6 linked regions of the Homo sapiens genome follow. The protein of the gene in region 1 purifies or fractionates together with the protein of each later gene. This does not show direct contact. Each region holds a gene or a part of one and is shown on either strand. Other genes may lie near its edges. The genes, in order: CPLX1, NENF, GLO1, HBS1L, JPT1 and NDRG3.

Region 1 (3,673 bases):
TCCTCCTGGGCAGAAAGGCCCCTCCCTGTGGCTGGTGATCCCGCGGTGTGCTCCTCCGTCCTGTAGAGTGCTGGTGCCCACTCCCCTCCTAAGTTTTCTCCTGGACGCAGCTGCTGACGCCTTCACTACTCCAGAGCACCTGTAATCTCAGATCCAGGACCTTGGACCTGGCCCGGGGGTCCTGTTCAGGGGATGGAAGTCCAGCTCCGTACAACACCAGGCCCCCAATCCTTCCAGGCCAGCCCAACCCCACTGGTTCCCACCTTCCTGGGCAGCAGGAGGCTGTTCCGTAGTTCCGTGGCCTGACCATGACCACAGGCTTCCTGGGCTGGTGGCTCACGGGAGGGCTGGAGGAGTGTGGCGTGGGGAGGCGTATTGATCTAGAAACCAAAACCCCGGGGCCTGACAAAAACTTAGAGGCCTGGAGGGCAGAAGAACAAAATCCCACACTCCCTCTGGAGGCTCTGGGGGAGGGCCCTTCCCTGCCCCTTCCTGCGTCTGGCGGCCCCGAATCCCTGGTGTTTCTTGACCACTCGCGACCTCCTCCGCTTTCGTATGCCCGCCCCCATCCGGGTGTCTGTCCTTTCTGTCTCTTACAAGGACACTCTCACTGGACTTGAGGCCCCTCAAATCCAGGATGGCCTCGTCCCCATCCTTACCATTATGAGATCAACAAAGACCTGTTTCCGAATGAGATCACCTTTGAAGCTCCAGGCAATATGAATTTGAGGGGGACAATATTCAGCTACTACGGAGGGCAGACGCACTCACGGGAGATGAGAAACGCGGGTGGGCAGGGGGTCGGTGAGGCCCAGGCATACTGGCTGAGGGCACGACTAGGCGGGATTCCAGGACACCCAGTGCCTGGAAGTGACCGCAGCCCAGGACCCTCTGCCGGCTGCCCACGGAGCTGCAGCGGCCTGCCAGGGAGTGGCCCTGCTGGGGCCGCGGCCGCATCCAGGCAGCCTTGGCCAGGCCCGGGAGTGTGAATGCAGGTCGTGGACCAGGCACTGGGCAGGAGGGTCAGCTGCGGGTTGACTGTTTCTCCCCACCTCTGCCACGCAGCATCCTGCCCACCCCTCCCTGCCCCGGGCCGGAGGCTTCCTGGAAGGCAGGATGCCAGGGGCTGGGCTGGGTTTGGAGCCAGAGGTGGGGCCACAGCCCTCTCTCCTCTCAAGGAAGATGGGAGCCTCCCCCTCCCTGCTCCCCCCCATGTCAGCTCCTGGCCCCCATTCTCCGTGGGGGCTTCCCATTCCTCCAGGGACCCCCCGGGGTGGGGTCTCTTCTCCTTCTGGGGTCCTTGTGTGCCTGGTGGGGTAGGGGGCCGCACCCACGCCTTCGGGGGTTCCTGGGCCAGTCCCTGGCGCAGGGAGGCTGCGGCCCGCCCGGGAGCCGCCGGGACCCCCGCCCTGACCCCCGCCTCCCCCGCAGTACGGCATCAAGAAGAAGGAGGAGCGCGAGGCCGAGGCCCAGGCCGCCATGGAGGCCAACTCCGAGGGGAGCTTGACGCGGCCCAAGAAGGCCATCCCGCCGGGCTGCGGGGACGAGGTGGAGGAGGAGGACGAGAGCATCCTGGACACCGTCATCAAGTACCTGCCCGGGCCGCTGCAGGACATGCTCAAGAAGTAGCCGCGCGCGGGACAGCGGCCCCGCGGAGCCCCCGCCCCTCCCCCTACAGATCCTCCGCGGAGGCCCCTGAGGGACGAGCAGAGCGCAGCCCCCACGCCGATATAAGCCATAGCCCCAGGCCCGCCCTGCCCGCGCCCGCCGCCTCCCTCACCCGGCAAGGGGCGCGCGCCCCCAGGACCCCCCCAGTCCGCCCCGTGCTCCTCTGCCCGCGGGTGGCTGGAGCCCCATCGCCTGGGACGCCCCTTTCTCTTGCTGTTTACCGCCCACCCAGCAGCGCCCGAGGCCAGGGCCGCCGAAGGGCAGCCCCGCGACCACCCCTGTGCGCGCGTTCGCGGCGGTGGGCGCCTGTCGGGCCCGCACTCAGGAGCACAGCCATAGCAGACGGGGGGCTGCGGGCGGGGCGAGGGCGGCGGGGCCTGGGTCCCCCTCCTGCACGCGGACTCCGGGGTTCGGATCGCTCCGCCGTGAGTATTTGCGTCCGCACGCGGCCGCTCTCCGCCCCCCGGCCTGGCCCCCTCGCGCCCCTGTCCATCCGTCTCTGTCCGCGTCCTTTCCTCTCCTCTCTGGAAGGTTTTGCTTCTTACGAACGCCACGGCCGTGTTCACTTCTAAACTAAAGGAAACAAAGCAATAGGTTTGGGGGACGCCCAGCCCCCACCCCCGTCACCCCGCTCTTCCCAAGTCCTCGCCCCCCGCCCGGCCTCCTAGCCTCTCCGCCCACGCGGCTGCTGCTTCTCCCTGGGGAGGACCCCTGCCCTCGGCCATTGAACACTGCACCCTCCACAGGAGCCGCAGAGGCCCGAGGCACCGGACGCTGGAGACCCTGCGCCCCTGCCCAGCACCTCCTCCGTGGGCAGCTCCTCGGGTGGGGCCTGCGGGGTTCCCTGCGCGCAGCTGGCGCGTGTGTGGCCTAATCCACCTGGTGGCCCTGCGGGGCGGCATCCGAGCCCCTGTTTCTCCTCCATTCATGTTTAATTTGCATCACAATTTGTTGAATCTCAGGTAAATGAGGTCTTTGCATTTAATGAGTTTTATCTTGACAGGCGCCGCCTCGCCCCCGGGCCCTTTCGTCCACATCAAAAATGCATCAAGTCTCCACGTGTTTCGGGCCAGGGCGTGGCTTGGCATTGACCTTCATGACCTTACATAGCTTTAGAGAAGCCATAACGTTAGACTGCAATACTAACGACCGACGCCCCTCCGGGCAGAGACCACCGCGCCCCTCTGCGCCCCAGCGACGCGGCCCGCGGGGACGTCGCTGTCCGTCCTGCTCGCCCTGTGCCCTCTCACTGACTTCTCCCGGGTCGTGTCTTTTAAAAACTCCTGTTTTCACACCTTACAAAGCCAGCTCTGAGCAGACAGGGCGTCCTCTCGTAGAACCTGCGCACCCCGTTCCCAGCGCATGGCGCCCCGGGCCGCGAGCTTAGCTTAGACCGTGGTGTCCTCTGTCCGTCTGTCCTGCGCCTGCGCCTCCTCCTGCATGTCGGGGCCCCTGCGTGTGTTCTCTCCGGATGGAATCACAGCCAATAAACACCAGTGATTTCACACCGTGTGGCCATTCCTTCCAGAGGTCCATTTCGCCAGCCGGAGGACCGGGGCTTTCCCCCGCGCATGTTCTCTCCACGGCGGCTGCAGGGCCTCCCACCATTCTCACTCAGCTCCATCCAGTCAGACCCATTTTCCCTAGGCCGTCCAGCCAGCGCAACCTCCATCTAAACACAAACCTGCGCCTTCAGGGTCTCCCGCCCCCCAGGGTGGTTCTTCCACCCGCAAAGCATCTGCCCTCTGCTCTCCCTCCCACCTAGGACCCCCGACCACAGGCCTGTCCCTCTCCTCAGCTCCACCGGGCCCAGGGCCCCAGGTCACCCTGTGCTGCCCTTACCTCGGCCCACCCAGGAATTCCTGCCCCCCAGCACCCCCGTGGGACTGTCCCTCCTCCTGAGTCCTGGACCCGGATCCCTGCAGGGAAATGTCTGCCAACCTGGGCTGAGGCCAGAAGAGGTTCCTGACCCCAACCCAGAGAACAGCCCCTCTGCCTGGTTGCT
Region 2 (3,960 bases), on another chromosome or scaffold:
TTTAGTAGAGACGGGGTTTCACCATCTTGGCAAGGCTGGTCTTGAACTTCTGACCTTGTGATCCACCCGCTTCGGCCTCCCAAAGTGCTAGTATTACAGGTGTGAGCCACCACACCTGGCCTTCCTTCCATTTTAAATGAGCAGATTGAGTTAATCTTTGTCAGTGTTTTACTTCAGCAGGGGCTTTTTTCCCCTGATAATGACATGCTTCTACTCAAAAGCCTTTCATGACTTTCCATTGCCTGTAGAATTAAATTCAAACTTAATGATTTACCCTAGTTGAAGCAATGAGAGAAGTGTTCTTTAGTAAAGAGTTGGCATTATAGAACATTACAGAACATTTTAGTGCCATTTAATGTAACTACTAATGATATCTTGGAGATAGTTTTGTATTGGTTTATCTATTATTTGATAACAAACACTGCTGAATGGGAATAGATTTGGCTTCCACCAACATTTAAGAAGAGGGAACATTTTTCTTGTTTGCATCTTTAATTTTTTTTTTGGAGACAGTCTCGCTCTGTCGCCCAGGTTAGAGTGCAGTGATGCGACCTTCTCCAGCTGCCAGGTTCAAACGATTCTCCTGCCTCAGCCTCCTGAGTAACTGGAATTACAGGTGCACGCCACCATGCCCAGATTTTTGTATTTTTAGTAGAGATGGGGTTTCACCATGTTAACCAGGCTGATCTTGAACTCCTGACCTCAAATGATCTGCCCATCTTGGCTTCTCAGAGTGCTGGGATTACAGGCGTGAGTCACCGCACCCAGCCTGCATCTCTAATATTTTTAAGAGACTATTTTCTCAGTATTAACACTTAGGTGAAAAAACAGAACGAGAAGGGGGCTAGGCACAGTGGCTTATGCTTGTAATCCCAGCGCTTTAGGAGGCCAAGGTGGGCAGATCATGTGAGCTCAGGAGTTCAAGACTAGCCTGGGCAACATGGTGAAACCCCATCTCTTCAAAAAAAAAAATACAAAAATTAGCTGGGCATGGTGGTGGCACATGCCTGTAGTCCCAGCTACTCTGGAGGCTGAGGTGGGAGAATTGCTTGAACCCGGGAGGTGGAGATTGCAGTGAGCCAAGATTGTGCCACTGCACTCCAGCCTGGGCAAGAGTGAGACCCTGTCAAAAAAAAACAACAACAAAAGAGGTTGTAGGGGTACTATTCTCATTTTATATTTTCTGAAAATCCCTGCTCAGCCTGCATGTGTGACTTACTTCACATTTAGAGTAAGTGGAATCCAACCTGATGGCTGGGGTGGCTTACTGGACTTTGTATCGCCATTGTTTGGCCTCTCCGTGAGCGTGGAGTCTTTTTTAGGATTGGGTGCGGGCCTTGGGAGCGCCCCCACGTGCAAGCTCCTGGTTACTCTGCATGTAAACCCACGCTTACGTCTCTTCCTTCCTTCCCACTACAGAGTTTTATGGACGAGGAGCCCCCTACAATGCCTTGACGGGGAAGGACTCCACTAGAGGGGTAGCCAAGATGTCCTTGGATCCTGCAGACCTCACCCATGACACTGTGAGCCAGATTATAAGCCTTTGTAAAATCCTCTACCTCCTTGTCCATGCCTTTTTCTCTTTTTCTTTTTCTTTTCGTGTGTGTGTGTGTGTGTGTGTGTGTGTGTGTGTGTGTGTGTGTGTGTGTATCTGGGCAAGAGCAAGCCTTCCTAATTAGCTTATTTACCCTTCGGTCCACTTGGTATGGTGGCCAGGCATTTTCTTGAAATAGATTATCCTACCATGTCATCTCGACTCAGAAACCTTCCATGGCTGTCTGTTGCCTAGAGTCAAGTCCAAACTCTTATGAACTTGTGATCCAACTCAGTGATCATCACAATTTGGCCCCAACCTGCTTTGGCAACCTAATGCTCCTTATGGTCTGTACCTGCCACCCCATCCCCTCAGCCCCTTACAGCCTTGCTATTAGTCTCTGAGACCCATTCCCCAGGCCATGCTTGGTAGCTTTGTGGATGAACTGGGTTGGGAAGAAAGGTCTCCCTCTATGCTTATATTTCTGTGAAGGAGAAGATAGCATTAAAACATTTTTTAGGCCAGGAGTGGTGGATCATGCCTGTAATCCCAGCACTTTGGAAGGCAAAGGCAGGTGGATCACCTGAGGTCAGGAGTTTGAGACTAGCCAGGCCAGCATGGAGAAACCCCGTCTCTACTAAAAATACAAAAATTAGCTGAGTGTGGTGGTGCACACCTGTAATCCCAGCTACTTGGGAGGTTGAGGCAGGAGAATCGCTCGAATCCAGGGGGCGGAGGTTACAGTGAGTTGAGATCATGCCACTGTGCTCCAGCCTGGGCAACAGAGTGAGACTCCATCTCAAAAAAAAAAAAATTTGTTTTTTAAACCTATTCAAGGTCTAAATAATTCCAACAGTAAGGCTGGAATTTCCTCTAACTGTGCTCAACATCAAACTGACATTGAGATAAATTGAGATGAGCCAAACTCATAACAAAATGAATGTAACAATATTACAAAAATGAATGAAGAACTTAAGAAAGGGGAAGGTGCCAAATGTATAATGGGAGGAGTGTAGAGAGAGGGATAATGGGAGCAGTGTAGAGAGAGGGAGGATTAATCGGGGGGAGGAAGGGGATGCAGATGCAATAGGGCATGCCCTGCCCCACCCCAGCATGCTCTCTGGAGTCTTTCATCCCTTCCATCAGTCAAACCACAAAGTGTGATGAAGCATTGCTCCCCGTATGTTATACCCTCCCACCCCCACGCCCCCCCCACAGCAGTGTCTCTTAAGCCATTTGTCCATTATTTGGTTTGTTGAGATATCTTTTCTCTTGCATTAGGGATGTGGGAGGCAAGGCAGGGATGGAGAAAGGCCAGTGCCAAACACTATCCACTTAACCCCATCTCCTGTCTTTCTTGGGCTTTTCTCCCCAAGACGGGTCTCACGGCCAAGGAACTGGAGGCCCTGGATGAGGTCTTCACCAAAGTGTACAAAGCCAAATACCCCATCGTCGGCTACACTGCCCGGAGAATTCTCAATGAGGATGGCAGCCCTAACCTGGACTTCAAGCCTGAAGACCAGCCCCATTTTGACATCAAGGATGAGTTCTGATGTTCCCCCTGCAGGAGCAGGTTCTTGGGAGCGTGAGGCAGGAAGACACTAGGTGCTGAATCTCCTGCAAAACTGGCTGCCTGGAGGCCCTGAGCCACCCAGATCTGAATAAAACAGATGCTTACCCTGGAAGAGCAAATGCCTCCTGTTGTCCTTGGTCAGGGGTTCTGTCTACCTGGGGACCCCTGTCTGCACACCAGGGATCAATAAGAGCCAAAGTGGGACACCTCCTAGATGTCAGTATCAGCTGGCTGGGCAGTGGAATTTTGAGCGACCTTTACTTTATACTTTTCTGTGCTTGACAGATTTTCAGCCATGACCATGTTCACTTTATAATCAAAACAAAAATAAAGGTCCCATTTTTACAAAAGGAGAATTCTTCCCCAGAGGCCATTTCCTTGGAGCCCACATAAGCGGGTGGGCTGTGTTGTTCTTCCATAGTCCTGCGGGGCCGGATGGTGGGGCATTTAGGCAATGGGCAGGAAAAGAGAGTGGTGAGGTGGGAGGGTGGGCGATGGGAAGGGAGCCAGGAAACCCGGCTGGAGTGAGGGTGGGAACTGGCTTCAGTGCACGTGCAGCTGGAGATTGGTGAGGAGGGCCGGGGTCAGTGTGGGCAGAGCCTGGTGGAGGTCATTCCAAGAACGGGAGGCATATTCCTTATGCTGGACTGAGGTCAGATTTTAAGAGGAAGCCCCTTTTGTTAGAGTGGGCAGATTTTTCCCTCTGGGGACATTGGGTGATGTCTGGCAACATTTTTTTTTTTTTAATTTTTGTCTGTCATGACTGCAGGATGCTACTGGCATCTCGAGGCCAGGGATGCTGGTCAACATTCTGTAATGCACCTGACAAAGCATCATCCGGTCCGAAATTTCA
Region 3 (3,500 bases), on another chromosome or scaffold:
AATAAAGAGTACAAAGAGAGGAATTTTACAGCTGGGCTGCCGGGGGGTGACATCACATATCAGTAGGACTGTGATGCCCACCTGAGTCTTAGACCAGCAAGTTTTTATTAAGGGTTTCAAAAGGGGAGGGGGTGTAAGAACAGGGAGTAGGTACAAAGATCACATGCTTCAAAGGGCAAAAAGCAGAACTACTAATAAGGGTCTAACAAAGATCACAAGGCAAAGGGCAAAAGCAGAACTACTGATAAGGGTCCAACAAAGATCACAAGGCAAAGGGCAAAAGCAGAACTACTGATAAGGGTCTATGTTCAGCAGTGCACGTATTGTCTTGATAAACATCTTAAACAACAGAAAACAGGGTTCGAGAGCAGAGAAGCGGTCTGACCACAAATTTACTAGGGTGAAGTTTTTTCCCCACCCTAGTAAGCCTGAGGGTACTGCAGGAGACGAGGGCGTATCTCAGTCCTTATCTCAACCTCATAAGACAGACATTCCCAGAGCGGGCGTTTATAGACCTCCCCCCAGGAATGCGTTCCTTTCCCAGGGTATTAATATTAATATTCCTTGCTAGGAAAATAATTTAGCAATATCTCTCCTACTTGCACGTCCGTTTATAGGCTCTCTGCAAGAAGAAAAATATGGCTCTTTTTGTCCGACCCCTCAGGCAGTCAGACCTTATGGTTGTCTTCCCTTGTTCCCTAAAATCGCTGTTTTTCTGTTGTTTTTCAAGGTGCGCCGATTTCATATTGTTCAAACACAGTTTTACAATCAATTTGTACAGTTAACACAATTATCTCAGTGGTCCTGAGGTGATGTACATCCTCAGCTTACGAAGATAACAGGATTAAGAGATTAAAGACAGGCATAAGAAATTATAAAAGTATTATTTGGGAACTGATAAATGTCCATATTAAAATGAAATCTTCACAATTTATGTTCCTCTGCCACAGCTCCAGCTGGTCCCTCCATTCGGGGTCCCTGACTTCCCACAACAGTTTTAGGATGGTAGAATTGCAATGCAGGGCAGGTACTGGAGAGTTAGTTAAATGTTATTGGTTGCAGTTCAGGTTATCTAAGCAGTGGTGGAAGAGGCTAACATGGTAGGTTGGGGCCAGATTGTGGAGACAGCTTTGAGTGTCACATCTAAGGAAGTTAGATTTTATATACATAGTGGGGAATGAGTCAGGGTTTTGAAGTATTCTATAAAGTAGATTGGAGGGATCCAAGTCTGGAGGTGATTAGGCCACTTAAAAAGCTCTTCCAGAAGGTGAGATAAGTGATATGAGGGTCTCGTTTGTAAAGAAGACAGCAGCAATGGCACAAAGTCGACTTGTTTTTTGATCATTTGCATCTTCATTATAAAGGAAGTCCAGAGAATGTATGGCTATGTCACATTTTGGGCAATCTCTCTGGGCTAACTTTCTTTAAAAGGTCAGATTCTCCTGGCAACAGAGAGAGACTCCGTCTCAAAAAAAAAAAAAAAAAAAAGGTCAGGTTCTCCTTCCAAGTAGTGATCTGGAGATCTTTTCTTTTTTACTATCTGTATCTGTCTCCACTAATACAGTAGACAATGTCCTCAGTGTTGCCATTATTTCTACCACCACTGCCAATGTCCATTTTCACATCGTTCCATATATAAATATATGAATATATAAAAATATAAAAAATTAATATATATTAATATATAAATATATCTATAAATATATGAATATATATATATATGATGGGGTCCCTCTCCAATCAGGTAGATTGGTGGAATTGAATGCAGTAGAAAGGAGAATAGGGAATGGAAAGGAGGAAGGAAGAAGGACAATGGCCAGATAAATGGCTGACTATTCAAGGCATAGAGAATCATAATATATATAAAGGCATAATGACATCAGAGAACTGAGGCAGGGACCTACGGGTAACACAGTGAATGAAGTTATAAGCAGTGGGACTTGAGGGAAGGGTGACCAAAACAATCATTAGGGTACTCAAAGAAAAGATGAGAATTCCCATTATATTCATTTGTTTTTCTCACCCTGTAATGGTTGCTATTTAAGTGATAAGGGTATGAAATAGAAAATGTTTGAGATGACCGGTTTAGGGGAGTGGTGATAACCGTTGGTGTTAGAGAAGTATGCAGCTACATATGTGGTTGCTTTTGGGACTGTCTCTCAAATGTGTTGAGGAACCACTGAAGTATTGATTTTTAAGCCAAAAATGACATGACAGGGTTTTCTTTATGGAAAGATCACTCCAAATTGCATGTAGATAAGCCTATGAAAAGCAAAGAGATAATTGTCTAGGCAGGAAGTAGTGAGGACTTCTTGCTTTCCTCAAGATACACTGAAGGCAGTTGAAAAGCTCATTTTTAAAAGTCTGGTGAAAACCACTTTGTTCACTTTTGTTTTGTGGGAGATGTGACACCTAGTAATAAAGAGTTAACAAACCCTTTCCCCTTTTATGAAAATTTGACTTTTCGTTAACTCCCTAGTTTCCCAGAAAACAATGAAAAATTGTGTTTGTTGCTTATGGTAAAAATAACCCAATTGGTAAATTGCATCTGGAGAGGGAGAATTGTAAATACTTGAAAGGAAGCCATAGCTTTGGACTTCCCTGATTGTAGTGACTCTTATAACTGTCCCTTGTGGAAATTCTAGAAGTTCTGCCTATGGAGTTGCTACTAGAGATACTGGCTCCTGTGGTACATGGGGCCTTCTGCCCTAGGGTGATTCTCATTCATATCCAGTGTGAATCTTCTCCCTGTACCTGATCTGTGTCGACTCCTGTAAGGACTCCCACTGAAGAGGAACACCTGATACTTCTTTGTTGGCAATCTGTGTTTTCCTAACAGATACCGTTTTGAGTAAACTGGCACCATGTATGGCCTATGGCTATGGTTGTCTTATAAGTCTGGATGTTTAGTTGAGCCTTAAGAAGACTTTCTGGGCCAGGCCCGGTGGCTCACGTCTGTAATCCCAGCACTTTGGGAGACCAAGGTGGGTGGATCATGAGGTCAGGAGTTCGAGACCAGCCTAACCAACATGGTGAAACCCTGTGTCTACTAAAAATACAAAAAAATTAGCCAGACATGGTGGCGCGTGCCTGTAATCCCAGCTACTCAGGGGGCTGAGGCAGGAGAATAGCCTGGGAGGCAGAGGTTGCAGTGAGCCGAGATCGTGCCATTGCACTCCAGCCTGGGCAACAGAGTGAGACTCCATCTCAAAAAAAAAAAAAAAAGAAGAAGGCTTTCTGTTGGGGGCAATATAACACTTTTGAAAGTTATTTGAGAGACAAAGTAGATAGTCTCTAAAGGGAATTGGTCTCAGTCTTATTAAGGTCGAAAGACAACATTTTTTAAACCAGAGAAATTTTTTAATTTCTGAAAATATGGCTAATGCAAGTGTGGAACTTCTCCTTTCTGCAGACTGAGGGTAATAAAGGTGCTATGGTCTGAATGTTTGTGTCCCCTCAAAATTCATGTGTTGAAATCCTAATCCCTGAGGCAGGTATTA
Region 4 (3,500 bases), on another chromosome or scaffold:
AAGAGGCAAATTGAAGCTGGTTCTGGGAGTTTTGGAAAAACTGAAAACGGATATTAATTGCAGTTACTGGAAGAAACTGCTTCTGGAAGGTGAAGTGAGTATTGCTGGGGTGATACTGGAACAAGAAGCAAAAGGAAAGGAGCATGTGCCTGCCTTCTCTGGCTTTCCGGTGTCCCTTTCATATCTCCTTATTGGATGATCCTAAAAGGGAGCCGGGTATCAAAGAAGAAATGTGCTTTGCAGTGACTTCAATCCAGCATCACAAAGCTGAGTAAAGGATGGTAGGTTAGAAGCTGAGAGGTGGCTTAATAAGCAGCATTCCTTTATAGCTCCTTATTCAGGGGTTCAAAAGAGAAGACATTTTGTAGTGACTTAGGAATAAAACAATTTCACATTTTTCTAGGAACCTCCTAGGCATTTGCCCTTTGGGGCTCCTATAATTCAGCATCACAGTTGACTAGGTAACTTAAATATTAGAGGTGACAAAGTGATGTCTGGTAGTGCTATCCTCATCACTCACATTCTAAGCACATTAGAGAGCATGGCATATAGAACTGAGAAGATGATATGGTTATATTAGATTTGAGTTAAAAAAATCTCTAATACATAGTTAATGGATTAAAGGTGGTATATGGGTGGATGTAAGTAGACTCGTTAGGAGACTGTTATATGTATTTATCTAGAGGAGATGAGGCTATTTTAGGACAGTGTTCTCAAAGTGAACCATCAGCATCGCTTGAGAGTTTGTTAGAAATGCAATGTTGGGGACTCCACCCAAGAGTCAGAAACTAGGAGTGAGGCATAGCAGATGTTTTAACAAGCCCACTGGGGTATGCTCGTGGTATGCATTGAGAACCATTTGTTTAGGGCAAGAGTTGGTAGCATTGGATTTGGAAATACATTCAAGAGAAAATTTACAGGAGTTGAGGTCTGCAGGACTTGGAAGTTGGTTGAATATGGCTTTGTATAAGCGTGGAATCTTTCAGAGGGGGGATTACTGAAAGACACCTTAATATTGCAGGTTAACCCAGTCATTTATCTAGGCTTCTCTGGATAAATGTTATGTTATCTTGAATAATAAGGTAATAGTACAAAGTCAGACCTTCAAAGGGTGTTTCTCTGAGACTTGCATTTATGGCCTAGCTTCCTTGAGGACAGAGACGGAGTTTATCCATGTGTCTCTCATAGCTTTTGATGTGGCTCTTACCTGTGGTTTGTATTCAGGACAGTCTGACTCTGAGAGTTACTTTTCAAACACACCAAGAAGCCAACTGATCTTATCAAAGCAGGAGATAGTTAAATGTTTTTGGTTTCTTCTGTGACAAACTGATTTTTAACAAAAGCATACGACTTTGGATTTTTAAATTTTTCAAAACATTTTAAAATAGCAGTAACATCAGATAAGAAACTTACTTTCCTCTATAGTGGTATATTTTCCAAGTAATTTTCAATAAAAAATGAATGGTTTTAGAAGAATATTTTCTATTCTTAAGCAGCTAATGTCATTGAAAAGCTGATTGTATTCATGGTGTAATGAAGTCTGATAATTGAAAGACTTTATCAATTAATTGGAATTTCTTTCTAAAATTCATCAGCACGTGTATATTTTTTTGAATTCTATTAAGCTCAATTTTCCTGGTCTCACTATGCTGCCCAGGCTTGTCTCAAATTCCTGAGCTCCAGTGATCCTCCTGTGTCGGCCTTCCAAAGTGCCAGGATTATAGGTGTGAGCCACCATGCCCAGCCTAGGATGGTGATTTTTAAACGTTAACTTTTCTTTCTTTTAGAAAGATTGATACTGAGTATTGAACCTATGTCAAAGAGTAGGGGGTAGCAAAAGGAGTTTGCATATAAAACTTTATTTGAATGGTGATGTATTTTGTTTCAGCTAATATGATTAGAAGTAATCTTTGTTTGCTCCATTCTAATTTCACACCTTTATTGTATATTCTTTTTTTTTTTTGTAAGAAAAACACTATTCTAATACATTTATAAATTAGTTTGGTATAAGGAAGCTTGTTTAAAGTCTTGTTCAAATAACTTGCTACAACAGTACTGTGGGTAAAGAAAATAACCCTGACTGAAGGAGTCTGGGAAGGCTTCTAGAAGGAGGTGGGATTGAAGCTAGGAAATTTGGGAGTAAGAATGGCATCCCAGCTAGAGGAAACAACGTTGCTTAAGCAATGGCCTCTGAGTGAGGCTTGTTTCATCAGACTACCAGGATTAATGCAAGTGGCAGGAGGAAAGAGGGCTAGGAAAGAAAATAGGAATGAAATTGTGAAAGACAGTTTCTAATTTTGTGTTTTTAGTGTCAACTTATTGGAGTTTTTTGAGTAAGGGAGCTAGTATTTTGTGCAGATAACTGATCATGGTCCACAAAGTGGCGTATAGGTGGGCCAGAATAAAGGGGAGACTTGTAGTTCACCAGTGTTTCTTAATCTTACCTTGTGATATGAATCTGCTGGGAATCATTTTTTTTTTTTTGAGACGGAGTCTCATTCTGTAGCCTAGGCTGGAGTGCAGTGGCACGATCTCGGCTCACCTCAACCTCCACTTGGCTCCCAGGTTCAAGCAGTTCTCACGCCTCAGCCTCTCAAGTAGCTGGGATTGCAGGCGCCCGCCACCACGCCTAGCTAATTTTGTATTTTTAGTAGAGATGGGGTTTTGCCATGTTGGCCAGGCTGGTCTTGAACTCCTGACCTCAGGTGATCCACCTGCCTGGACCTCCCAAAGTGCTGGGATTACAGGCATGAGCCACTGTGCCTGGCCAGAATAATTCTTAAGAATACAAATTTCCTGCTTCATTCCAGCACCACTGAGTCATAATCTCCCGGGGAAGAAGCCTAGAAATCTGTATTTTTAATGAATGCCTCATGTGATTTTTATTTTAAGATGTTTAGGAAACCATTGTAGGAAGTTTCAGGTGTTAGGTTTTGAATTCTTTGCACTTTTATGTTTGTCAAAATGCCTTAAATTTTAAAAATTATAGGTGTCTGTTTTTTCAGAAGGCACTTCCATCAAAGTTTGTGATTTAAAATTTTAGAGAATAGCATTTTGTATTTACCATTTTCTCATCATTACTTTCTCTCACTCCTTTATTTGTTGTATTTGTTGCTTTTGGGGCTCTCAGTACAACTTCAGAGGTTTGGACCGCTCCCCACCTCACCCACCCACCCTTTGAAAGTAATGGAAAGACCTGCGGTTACTTTTGCAGCGACCCAATACTTCTCCTGGGGGAGTTTTCTTACTCTTCCCCCCACCCACCCTTTGCAAATCCAACCATTACTACTTCCAAAATAGTGGCCACAGTATGGGTTTTTGAGTTGGAGTTATGTGTTGGGTGTGTGTGGTCGTATAGGACCACCCTCGACCCCACCACAGAAAAAATAGCTCCTGGCAGGCAGAGGAGAAGCCTGTGCATTGAAAACTTCCTCTTCCCTGTCAGTATTTCCTGACTGAAACTTGTTGAGGGAAACATCTGATTTCATGCCTCACTTAGT
Region 5 (2,765 bases), on another chromosome or scaffold:
TGGTGGTGCGCGCCTGTAGTCCCAGCTATTTGGGAGACTGATATAGGAGGATTGCTTGAGCCCAGGAGTTTGAGGCTACAGTGGGCTGTGATTGAGGTACTGCACTCCAGCCTGGGCCACAGAGTGAGACCCTGTCTCAATATCCTCCACCTGCCACCCCACCCCTCCACAAAAAACAAACAAACAAAAAAACTAAAAATATGTATACTATTAAGCTCTTAGTAAAAGTTTCCTTTCATAGAAAATATAGAATTTTTGCATTCACTTTGCACTTTGAATCAGTTTTTTCCCGGTTTAGAAACAACCCTAATGAGAGACAATTCATTTGGAAAATTGGATGGGTTCCAGTTTTTTTGCTGTCAGAGAATTGGATAAATAGCCTATATCATGTGATAATTACTATAAAGCAATGAAGCTTGACAGTGAGGTGAGGGATTTGAAAACATACAGTTAATAAGCAAGGCGAATTACTACCCTGTTTGTAAATATGGATACATTTCCAAGAGTGAAAAAAAGAAGTTGATACCATTTATGTTAAATATAACCAAAACATGTTACATGTTATCTGGCTACATGTAAATATACATAAAACAAGTGGACTAGAAGGCTGCACAGGACTTGCAGTGGGACCTCTGGGAATAGGGGGAGCAGGATCCACCCGGAGCTGGAAGGGGCCGTAGAGCTAGAGTTCCCTGTTCTTATTTAAAAATCTTCATGTCCTTGGGCCAGGCGCGGTGGCTCACGCCTGTAATCCCAGCACTTTGGGAGGCCGAGGCAGGTGGATCACAAGGTCATGAATTCAAGACCAGCTTGGCCAGGATGGTGAAACCCCATCTGTACTAAAAATACAAGAATTAGCCGGGCATGGCGGCAGGCGCCTGTAATCCCAGCTACTAGAGAGGCTGAGGCAGGAGAATTGCTTGAACCTGGGAAGTGGAGGTTGCAGTGAGCCAAGACTGCACCATTGCACTCCAGCCTGGGCAACAGCGAGACTCCGTCAAAAAACAAAACAAAACAAAAAAAAACTTCATGTCCTTATATATTTGTGTAATTTAGAAAAGAACATAAACAACAAATATGGGAAAAGATGAACAATGGTTAATTCTGTGGAGTGGGAGCATGGTGGGTGATTATTTTGTTTATGCTTTTAGGTATGTTTCCAACCATCAAACCAAAAAAAAAAGAAAAAGAGAAACAGATCCTTGATCTTAACAGGAAATGGCTGTCATTATGAGTATTATTTCTATTCCCTGTTTTCATAGAAAATGTGGACACAGACTTGCCAGGCAGCCTGGGGCAGAGTGAAGAGAAGCCCGTGCCTGCTGCGCCTGTGCCCAGCCCGGTGGCCCCGGCCCCAGTGCCATCCAGAAGAAATCCCCCTGGCGGCAAGTCCAGCCTCGTCTTGGGTTAGCTCTGACTGTCCTGAACGCTGTCGTTCTGTCTGTTTCCTCCATGCTTGTGAACTGCACAACTTGAGCCTGACTGTACATCTCTTGGATTTGTTTCATTAAAAAGAAGCACTTTATGTACTGCTGTCTTTTTTTTTTTTCTTTTGAAGAACAGGTTTCTCTCTGTCCTTGACTCTTGGGTCTGTGGGCCATGGCATGAGTGTTTTCTAGTAGTAGATTGGAGGGAAAGCTTTGTGACACTTAGTACTGTGTTTTTAAGAAGAAATAATTTGGTTCCAGATGTGTTAGAGGATCTTTTGTACTGAGGTTTTTAACACTTTACTTGGGTTTACCAAGCCTCAACTGGACAGACCATAAACAGTCCACAGGCACCGTTCCTGCCAGGCCCCAACCCACAGGGAGTCTCTCCGCAGAGCCTTCTTGGTGTTGCCCTAACTTGCCAGTGGCCTTTGCTCAGAGCCTCCTCCTGTGACATGTGAACAATGAAGAGGCCTGCGCCTCCTGCCTTGCCGCCTGCAAAGCAAAGAAACTGCCTTTTATTTTTTAACCTTAAAAAGTAGCCAGATAGTAACAAGACTGGCTGGCTGATGAGCAAAGCCTTTGCTCTCACGCAGAGGAAGGCTTGGATGTACAATGAAACTGCCTGGAACTAAAAGCAGTGAAGCAAGGGAGGCAATCACACTGAAGCGGGTCTTCCTCCAGGAACGGGGTCCCACAGGCGTGTTGTTTTAAATAACCTGATGCTGTGTGCATGATGCTGGTGCTTGACCATGAAAGGAAAGTCTCATCCTTAAAATGTGTTGTACTTCACAATCCTGGACTGTTGCTTCAAGTAAACAATATCCACATTTTGAAACACTGTGTACTGTGTCTTCTTTTTGAGATGGTTTCAGTGTTCTCCCTGGTTAGATGCTTTTCTCTTTGTCACTATAAATCCTGCCTACTGATTGGAGGAGTCATTTGAAGTTAAATAGCCAGATGTGCCTGTAATTAGCTACTTGGGAAGCCAAGGCAAGAGGATGCTTGAGCCCAGGAGTTTGAGACTATCCTGGGCAACATAGCGAGACCTCCTTAAAAAACAAAATCTTAAAACAGATGAAGACCCAGAGAGGAGTGGGTTTCTTTCTGAAGAAGGCTCTAAAGATGAGCAGGTTAGACTCTTCTACCTCCCCTTTGTTCTGGGCAGTAACATTTTAAAGTGTTCTCCAAGACTGGGCAACATGGTGAAACCTCGTCTCTACCAAAAATAGCCAGGTGTGATGGCACACGCCTGTAGTCGGGAGGCTGAGGCAGGAGGATTGCTTCACCCTGTGAGATCAAGGCTGCAGTGAGCCATGATCGCACCACTGTACTCCA
Region 6 (3,500 bases), on another chromosome or scaffold:
GCCCCGGGGTTCAAGACCAGCCTGGATAACATAGGAATACCTTGTCTCTACAAAAAATTGAAAAATTAGCCAGCCAGGCATGGTGGTGTTCACCTGTGGTCGTGTCTGCTTGGGAGGCTGTTGTGGGAGGATCACTTGAGCCCAGGGGATTGAGGCTGCAGTGCCTGGATGACTGAGCAAGACCCTGTCCCCAGAAAGAAAACAAACAAACAAAAAAACCTGTCATTTTTGTGTCCTTCCTCAAAACTCCCAACTACTTAGGCCCAAATTCAGATCTCTCTGAGCTTTCCTGGGAGCATCTCCCCATCCTTAGCTCTCAAACTAGTAATGGAAATTTGACTATCTGTGTAACTGTTTATTCTGAGAGGCTGTCCTGGCAGATAGAGGTGTGGGGTGATTGATTGGCTTTGGCACTCTCAGCTTCCTCCTACATCTGCTTCGCAGGGCAGAGTCATAGGCTCCCTACCTGTTTGTTCCCTGGACGGGTGCTTATTGAGAAGACCTTAGGAGGAGTGAGCACACACTCTGTGGAATGCTAATTCTTCCCCTATCCTTTCACTCATCTCCAGAGCTGCCTTTGGCCAGTGACTGCTGGGAAATAGACAATTGCAGACAAATAATAGCTAATATTTAAATAGTACTCAAACCGTGTTCCAGACCCTGCTTTAAATGCTTTACATTTGTTAACTCATTTACTCCTCACAACCCTATGGGATAAGTTTACTATTATTCCCATTTTATAAGTGAGGAAACTGAGGCCCAGAAAAATTAAGTAACATGGCTAACATTACATAACAAATAAGTGGCAGAGCTAAGATTTGAACCCAGACAGTCTGGTGCCAGAATCTGACTCTAAAATGCAAATTGGCCAGTGGTCAGTTTATATCCAACAAGATTTGTATCCAGTTCCTTTTTTCTATTTTGTGGACAAATGGTTCCACAGCACACCATCCCCTTAAGTGTTCAGGCAGAGGCAGGCTGACTTCCCTGTCAGATGTAGAACAGATCCTGCCTCATATATAAGTGGTCATCTTAGGATCAATTCCATCTCCAATTCTGTAATACTTTTTCTTTCTTTCTTGAGATAGGATAGTGCTTTGTTTCCCAGGCTGGAGTACAGTGGCGTGATCATGGCTTACTGCAGCCTCAACCTCCTGGGCTCAAGTGATCCTCCCATCTCAGCCTCCCTACTAGCTGGGACTACAAGTGTGTGCCAACACGCCTGGCTAATTATTGTTATTTTCTGTAGAGACAGGGTTTTGCCCTGTTGCTCAGGCTGGTCTCGAACTCCTGGGCTTGAGCAATCTGGTTGCCTCAGCCTCTGAAAGTGTTGGGATTACAGGCGTGAGCCAACGCTCCCAGTCGGATGCTTACTACTTTTCTAGGAATTCTGATCTGGGTCTGTTCCTGGGCCTGCTCGAACATCTTAGGATCAGATGGTTCATATTATGAACCAAATTCAAATACAATAAAATAACCATGCCAGACACAGTGGCTCACACCTGTAGTTCTAGCACTTTGTTAGGCTGAGGTAGGAGGATCACCTGAGGCCAGGAATTCAAGACCAGCCCTGGCAACATAGCGAGACTCCATCTCTACAAAAAATTGAAAAATTAGCCAGGCATGGTGGCATGCGCCTGTAGTCCCAGCTACTCAGAAGCCTGAGGCAGGAGGATAGCTTGAGCCCAGGAGTTCAAGGTTACAGTGAGCTATGATTTCACTACTGCACTCCAGCCTGGGTGACAGAGTGAGACCATGTCTCTTAAAAAATTAATAATAATAATAATAATAATAATAAAATTTTAAAAATAACTATGTTATTCTATGCCTAAGTGAAACAAATAAGCATTCATGCTAAGGGTTTGTAACTGTGTGCCCATACCTAGAAAAGCTTTATTTTTGCATTTAGTTGCCTAAATATAGCAGTAGACCAAGACCCCCTTTCTGAGTTGACTCTTACTGCCGGAGGTTTACTGAGCCTGGACTCCAACTGAAGAGATTGTTAGAGGTTTGGAAATACCCTAAGAGAGAACCATGTTACTAGTTCTTTTCATGTGGCACCCTCTGGTCCCAAGGGCTGCTTGTTAGGATATAGAAACCGTGGATTATTTTACTTTCTCCTTAGCATGGCAGTTGTAGAGAGTTACACAATATGCCACAATCATTTTCAGGGTACCACATCACCTCCTTTGAGCCTTTGGTAAAAGGAAATGCTTTTATCTAAGATTTTTTTTTTTTTTTGAGGCGGAGTTTTGCTCTTGTTGCCCAGGCTGGAGTGCAATGGCATGATCTCCGCTCACGGCAGCCTCCGCCTCTCAGGTTCAAGCAATTCTCCTGCCTCAGCCTCCCAAGTTTCTGGGATTACAGGCATGTGCTACCACACCCAGCTAATTTTGTATTTTTAGTAGAGATGAGGTTTCTCCATGTTGGTCAGGCTGGTCTCGAACTCCCAACCTCAGGTGATCTGCCCACCTCGGTGTCCCAAAGTGCTGGGATTATAGGCATGAGCTACTGCGCTCAGCCTTTTATCTAAGACTTCTGGACCTTTCCAGCTGTTCTAGCAACTGGGAATTGTGAGTGCTTTCTAATTCAGGAGATATCCTTCTGGATTGCAGGTATCAGTACCCCACAATGGATGAGCTGGCTGAAATGCTGCCTCCTGTTCTTACCCACCTAAGGTAGGTTCATTCTGCAGTCTTTCATGCAGTTTTTATTGACTTTCTATGGTGAATTATTTAGTGTCTGTTTCAGAGGATATGATGGTTAGGAAAAATATTATCACTGTCCTCCTAGAGCTTAGTGGGGTAACAAGTAAGCAAACAAATAATAAAGTTCTATAAAATAAGTCAGTGGGGGTGTTGTGATAGAGAATAAGGGTGGGATCTACATTAGTAAGGCAAGTTAGGGAATTCCTCTCTAGGAAGGTGGCACACACGCTGAGACCTAGAAGATTTAAAAATCTACCTTGAGCTGGGCCAAGTGGCAGGAAGATCACTTAACAACAGCAGTTCAAGGCTACAGTGAGTTGTGATCCCACCCCTGCACTCCAGCCTGAGTAACAGTGAGACACCCTGTATCTAAAAAATAAAAATAAAGCTGTTTAAATTTTTTTAAAAACGTTCATCTCACTGAGAAGAGAATGGTTTGGAGAAGAATCAGAGAGAGAAAGCAGGGAGAACAGTTAAACTATTAACAATAGTCCAGGCAAGAGATAATGATAGCATGGTACTGGATGCTGCTGTTGGGGGATGATTGAAGTAGATAGTAGTAGGTAGATGGATATATTCTGGAGATAGACTCCACTGACTTGCTGATGGGTTGGATACTGACAGCTACCAAGGATAACTCCCAGGTTTCAGTTATATATATTTTTATATGTGTGTGTGTGTGTGTGTGTGTACATATATGTGTGTGTATATATATATGTATATATACATATATATACATATATTTATTTATTTATTTATTTGTTTTGAGATGGAGTTTCACTCCATCACCCA

The links.
Region 2: the proteins of CPLX1 (region 1) and NENF fractionate together in Homo sapiens (co-fractionation; one large-scale study listed by BioGRID). This does not show direct contact.
Region 3: the proteins of CPLX1 (region 1) and GLO1 fractionate together in Homo sapiens (co-fractionation; one large-scale study listed by BioGRID). This does not show direct contact.
Region 4: the proteins of CPLX1 (region 1) and HBS1L fractionate together in Homo sapiens (co-fractionation; one large-scale study listed by BioGRID). This does not show direct contact.
Region 5: the proteins of CPLX1 (region 1) and JPT1 fractionate together in Homo sapiens (co-fractionation; one large-scale study listed by BioGRID). This does not show direct contact.
Region 6: the proteins of CPLX1 (region 1) and NDRG3 fractionate together in Homo sapiens (co-fractionation; one large-scale study listed by BioGRID). This does not show direct contact.

Annotation. Positions count from the first base shown.
Region 1 is NC_000004.12:784,457-788,129, reverse strand, and holds the end of CPLX1 (complexin-1), read left to right. Parts: exon of another isoform or gene 1-181; intron 182-263; exon of another isoform or gene 264-356; intron 357-1,431; coding exon 1,432-1,629; 3' UTR 1,630-3,173; downstream 3,174-3,673. UniProt on the Homo sapiens protein: Positively regulates a late step in exocytosis of various cytoplasmic vesicles, such as synaptic vesicles and other secretory vesicles.
Region 2 is NC_000001.11:212,442,920-212,446,879, forward strand, and holds the end of NENF (neudesin precursor), read left to right. Parts: intron 1-1,419; coding exon 1,420-1,523; intron 1,524-2,910; coding exon 2,911-3,087; 3' UTR 3,088-3,460; downstream 3,461-3,960. UniProt on the Homo sapiens protein: Acts as a neurotrophic factor in postnatal mature neurons enhancing neuronal survival. Promotes cell proliferation and neurogenesis in undifferentiated neural progenitor cells at the embryonic stage and inhibits differentiation of astrocytes.
Region 3 is NC_000006.12:38,696,646-38,700,145, reverse strand, and holds part of GLO1 (lactoylglutathione lyase), read left to right. Parts: intron 1-3,500. UniProt on the Homo sapiens protein: Catalyzes the conversion of hemimercaptal, formed from methylglyoxal and glutathione, to S-lactoylglutathione. Involved in the regulation of TNF-induced transcriptional activity of NF-kappa-B. Required for normal osteoclastogenesis.
Region 4 is NC_000006.12:135,044,823-135,048,322, reverse strand, and holds part of HBS1L (HBS1-like protein), read left to right. Parts: intron 1-3,500. UniProt on the Homo sapiens protein: GTPase component of the Pelota-HBS1L complex, a complex that recognizes stalled ribosomes and triggers the No-Go Decay (NGD) pathway.
Region 5 is NC_000017.11:75,134,748-75,137,512, reverse strand, and holds the end of JPT1 (jupiter microtubule associated homolog 1), read left to right. Parts: exon of another isoform or gene 1-1,262; coding exon 1,263-1,411; coding exon of another isoform or gene 1,412-1,511; 3' UTR 1,512-2,265; downstream 2,266-2,765. UniProt on the Homo sapiens protein: Modulates negatively AKT-mediated GSK3B signaling.
Region 6 is NC_000020.11:36,683,591-36,687,090, reverse strand, and holds part of NDRG3 (protein NDRG3), read left to right. Parts: intron 1-2,615; coding exon 2,616-2,678; intron 2,679-3,500.